Regions from separate parts of the Homo sapiens genome. Here region 1 is linked to region 2. Evidence: fine-mapped expression QTL. Tissue or cell type: cerebellum. Region 2 holds a variant in brackets; the other region holds the start of a gene. All regions are shown on one strand. Distances are between the middles of the regions. Region 1 holds the start of EPHA3 (EPH receptor A3). Region 2 has its middle 380 kb from the start of EPHA3.

Evidence for each region. PIP is the estimated chance that this variant, and not a neighbour inherited with it, causes the effect. A credible set is the group of variants that fine-mapping cannot tell apart.
Region 1: EPHA3 starts here. The variant in region 2 is the best candidate, but not a certain one, in a credible set for the expression of EPHA3 in cerebellum (GTEx, PIP 0.60).

Annotation. Positions count from the first base shown.
Region 1 is chr3:89,106,459-89,108,958 of GRCh38, reverse strand. It overlaps EPHA3 (EPH receptor A3), which reads right to left and starts at 1,338. Exons shown (of 17, transcript NM_005233.6): 1 at 1,123-1,338. The coding sequence starts at 1,210. RefSeq lists an enhancer at 1,357-1,496.
Region 2 is chr3:89,483,613-89,486,650 of GRCh38, reverse strand. No RefSeq gene overlaps it. Among named protein-coding and RNA genes, the nearest start is that of EPHA3, 380 kb to the right of the region's middle. The variant A/G (reference allele first, on the strand shown) is at 1,424.

The sequences.
Region 1 (2,500 bases), 380 kb after region 2:
GGAGTGATGTATATAACATGATGTTTGCACATCAGTTGCTCGGTATTGTTAACTTGCAAAATAAATTGCTAAATGTTACTGTTATAAGTTCAAAATCACTAAGAGGAAATTAATGTTGTAAGTGTGGCTTTACACTAATCAATTATTTAGAGAAGTTTGTTTTACGAGTTAGTGACTGTATTCACAAGAATAGATCACAAAAGGAATACAGGAGAAAGAAAATGTATGTATTAAGTACACAATCTTATAGAACACATTGGTGTCCTTAACATTAGGTTTGCACTTTAACCCACTGAAAAGGAATTAATGCTCATTACAAGGATAATAAATAACACAACATCAAGGAAATGCCATTTGCTGCATATGAACATTCTCTCTTAATCTACTATTCAGTTATTTACTATATCTTCCCAGGAGCTATCCACTATTCATTAAATACATTCTCCTATTTGTATATAAGCCTTTAAACAAAGAGAATCCAACCTAAGCTTATTGTAATTCTTGCAAATATTACTTACGTTAATGTGGCATATGCTGCTCTTTAGAACCTGTACCATAGAGCAAACCATTGCCTGGCGGGATACACACAACTTCAACACAGCCCTTGCACCATAAACACGCACCTCCGCTTCGACAAACTCTGATTTCCCTTTAGTCCATTCATAAATGCCATGATCCCAAGTAGGAACAACCTGTCATTACCTTTAAACATACTAAAGAGTCTAGAGAGGAAGGCTGAATTTTCTTTCAAACTTCTCGGAGTACCACATGGTCATAATTAGAAAATAAAATACTGCCTTGGCTATTTGGCAATTAACATAACTGGGTTGCAACGCTGGAGGATTTTCTTTCTTTCTTTCTGCTCAAATTGGCAAACAAGGTAATTGCTCGAAATGGTGTCAGATTAAAAACACATTTTCAAAGTTTAGACCATCTAAAATTATCTCCTGAAGTGTTTTAGAAGACAGTTGGAAAAAAAAAAGGCACATCTTTCCTTCACTCTCAGAGCAAACTGCTCTATTCGGAGGCACCTTCCCGACGTGCAAGGCTTCGGTGAGAACGTGCTTTGAAGAGCGTGAGCCCCGCGGGGCAGAGCTCCGTGCGTCGCGGTACCTGGCTTACCTTCATTGGAAGGCTGCGGAATCAGTTCCCCGAAGCTGTCGAGAACAGAGCAGCTGAGAAGGAGGAGGATGGAGAGCTGACAATCCATGTTGCTGGTGCAGAGGGCAGTGAGAGGAGCATATCTCCATGAAGCATGCCACTGATGTGAGGGGGAGCGCTCTGATTGCTGGAGAAGTTACCATGCTCCGCTCGCAGGCTGATGTCAAGTTTGACACTGGAGATAAGGAGGAGTCTGGCTGCCTTTCCGCGAACCCCGCTCGGGGACTTCCCTGGGTCCTAGTGCCGTCTTCAGCGTGCGCTGAAGCAGAGCGGGATGGCACGCAGCTGGCTCTGCAGCCCAGAGCTGCTCGGGAAGGAGACCGGGTGGGAGTGGGGGCGTCGCCCATGGGACAGGAAACACAGAAGATGTGATGAGGCCGCGGTGCTGAGAAAAATGCTCCCTCTTTTGTGTTGCATGAAAAGTAGCTGTTTTATTGTTTGCTATCCATGCTCTGTTGCTTAATTCACCGAAGAAATCACAGCCTTGATAGGAGTATCATATGGCAATGTGAGTGCAAAAGGAACTGAAATGCGAGAGAAACGTGTGTTTTGAAAGAATAGCAGTCTTTCGTTAAAAAGTCAATCATGTTTGTATAATTGAAAAAAATGATTATAGTTATTCCTTTACTGTGTTCAATGTGATCATAACTCTCCATGAGTTCTTTGTGATTCAGAAAGACACTAATACACAGCCTGAATCAGAGGGTCTCTGCATTTCCACACCCAATGGTATCGTGGCTTTTTACTAGATCTGGCACAGTGATTTTCCGCGCACATAGAGCATACTTTGTTTTTTTTCAAACAGGGAAGTTGACCTTCATCATCTTACGGAAGGGAGCAAGTCTAACCCCAGCCGGAGGTCTACATTCTTTTCTCGTTCTGTGTTGTAAAAGTAATACAGATCAAACCTAAATTTCTTAATAATACATATCCCCCTCCCTCACCATCTCACATTAGGATCTCTGGGTTCTGCAAGAGAAACAATGCATAATTCACAGCTCCTCCATTCAACTTTCAACCACTGATAGTCTAATAATATTGGGGTATTCTTATTCTTTAACATTCCAAATCCAAAAGCTAAATAATAATGTCCTCGTACTTTCTCACTTATTTTACACCATGACTATCAATGGTCTCTGTTATTTCCAATCCCATTGCTGAACAACCTATTGCAATCTAGTTCAGCCAAACAATTTTGTAATTTATATTTTAATAACCAGCATCACTTATCTTTAAAATATCTCCCAGAAAATGGTTACTCAGATATCCTTCCGCCCATCTATCTCTTCTTATACTAAAAAGAAAACAAGATTATTATATTCCTCTCACAACTTCAGAA
Region 2 (3,038 bases):
ATTTTATGGCATATCTAACTCCACCACTTATTTTCCCAAATGGCATCTAGAGCCTGTGTGTCAACAGAATGTGCATCCCAGAAGCCTCATAAGAAGGGTAGCTTTTAGTAGGCATGTTGACATTATTTGTACATAGTGAGAAAGTAGAAAGGATCAGAAAAGCTTTGGCATTTACCTTGTTAAATTTTTATAGCTAAGCTCTGGTTCAAGGGTCTACTTAAACAACTTAACTGCACTAAGAAAAGTGGGAGCATTGAGACCAATGAAACAAGTCCACAAAATTCTATGAAAATGAACCAGTTCTAGCAGAGATCAGTATATTCAATGATCCAAGATATATAACTAGAACATTAACTAGCTTTATTGAGCTGAAGGAAATTTACACTTTTTCCTACGGGGAAAAAATAATCAGATACATTGCCATTTATAATGCCATCAAACATTGTTTTAATATATTAATTCAACTCAAAAAAATTTTGTGTTTATTATATACCAGGAAAATTGCAATAGGTGATGCAACAACAATGGTTTGCAAAACACAGTTCAAGGTGTCCTCAGCTAGAAGTAAAGATAGGGCATAAAGAATAGGCAATTTTGGTTAAGATAGTGTGTGTCAGTATTAAGTACAGGGTTCTACTGCTGCACGAGGAAGGGTTACCTAACCCAGTTTTTAGGGATATAAGAGGACCTGAAGAATGATTAGAGATTGGCTAAGTGATTCTAGACAAAAGATCAAAAAAGTCAAAAGCTATGATGCATTAAGAAAGTGGAATACTCAGAGAACTACAAGTGGGTCAGTACAGTTGTATAGAGTGTAAGGAGGTAGTGGGTTAACCAGAAAATAAGGAGAGAAGCCGGGTTTTATTCAAGATAGGTCTCATGTGCCAATACCAATGAGTAGTCTGTATTTTAGAAATAAAAAGTTGGCAGCTGCAGGGTAAATTCAGAGTGTGTGTGTGTGTGTGTGTGTGTGTGTGTGTGTGTTCATAAATAAGTGGGTTATAATTTAAATATATAGAAATTTTTCCACAAAGACTCAGATTAAGGATTCTCTTGAAAAATCAAGAATTAATATATACACTTACCATGTACCTACAAAAACTTAAAAAATTAAAACCTAGTTTCCTTAAACCTTAAAAACAAAGAAAAGGAAAAACCAGGAATTCATACTGGATCGGTGTTGCCTTACACCTGAGAAATTTGCTTTTCGTGGAAGAAAAGGCACTTTTATGGGTCACCACACTCTTCACTTGCTTCACTCATTTATATAACCTGCCAGTTCCCTGAGGCATTTGCGTTTGCAAGCCTCCTGAGGAGGAACTACAACATTAACTTTGCCGTATTAGTCTGGCTGCATATTCAACCTACTTTTGTAGGTTGAAGATATCAAGACTAGAATCAGGGGCACAATTTAAGAAATTCC[A/G]TCTGTAACTCAGAAAAGTAATGAGGATCCAACAGAGATTCTGCTGGGCAGTAGAGAAAAGGGATGAGAGTGAGCGTTTCTAAGGTGGCATTGTTAGGGGATCAGTTAGACACTGAAGAAAAGGCAGAGAGAAGAATGAAGGATAACATTTTAGTTTTCCAAGTGAGTCAACTTGAGAGTCATCTAAGTTTAAGATTTTCAAGAATCAGACACAGAAAGAATTAAACCCGCAAATATTTTTTGCTAGAAATGCCTGGGTAACATCATTGGAACAGGGTTTAAGAGAAAACACAAGGAGCTTGCAGATAGAAATACAGTTCTGACACCTATAAAAGGAAAGAGTGAAGGAAGGAAAATTGAGTAGTAGGGAGATCAGACTGTAGGGTATGCCTGAGCAAGCTTCAGTCAGGATGATTAGAACACAAAATACGCTTGTTAAAGGGATTTACCACTTGTGAAGAAATGGCCTGGCACTAGTACTTCCACCATACTCAGTCATTGACAGGCATTAACCAAGGTAGAGCATGGCCTGCTAAAAATATGCTGGGGATTTTGAAAATATAGCAGCTCACAGTTGTCAGCTAACTGCTCTCTTGCAAGAAACTCTCTTGAAAGGAAATCTGAGCAGTGTACTCACATAGCTGACAAGTGCCATTAGTAGAGGTATTGGATTTATGTAATAAGAGAAAAGAATGAAAAATGGTTGCCTATAGAGGAAAAGAAATTGGCACAGTTAGCAAGAAACTGATGTTTCTCTGATAAGCTTTTTAGAACAATCTGCCTCTGACATATTATTTATGTTAAAAGGAGTTGTGGCAGAGATTGTGATATAAATTCCAGAAATTTTCCATTTTTATTTAGGCACACTGTCAGACAACTCTCTTTATGTTCTCTTGCAGTTAAGTATGCCAGTGTGGTTGAGTTGTTGCCAGTGGAACCAGAGAAGAAGTGGTATGTACCACTTACAAGCAGAGTTCATAAAATCCCCCCAAATGATCCTCTCCTTCATTTTCCTGGCTGGAAGTAGAGGATTTCAAGGCTCGACAAGATGGAGAAAGTGTAGATTCTTAATTATTGCAAAGAAGGCCACCTGGCAAACACCTACTTTGGATCATTCTGTGTTAAAAAACATATTTTTATTATTTTAAGTTGATAATATTTGAGAACTTAACTATGTAGCTAGCATTAACCTAAGAGGTCTTCCAAGAAAAATATATGTCTATATAGGAAACACATAAATATTTGTAATGTAGATCTTTACATACTTTCAAAGACATCTTTCCATATACATTTTTACCCTTGAATTCTTTTTCTTAAAGCTTCAGATTCTCATCCCCAATACTTAGTAACTTATTAAAGTCTGGCTTACACTATATATTTGACAAACCCATGATGTTAAGCTGACTTCTCCTTATTCTCTACTTGGACTAATGGTGCCATCATTTCCACAGACACTCAAGACCTAAATTTTTGTTTTGCTTTGATTTCTATCTTTCGAAGAATTCTCAGAACAAATCGGTAAATTTTGTTAATCCTCTTTCTTTTATATATTTTTGTATGCTTTCCATTCTTCACATCTCTATTACCACCATCCTGGGGTAGATGTATATCTTTG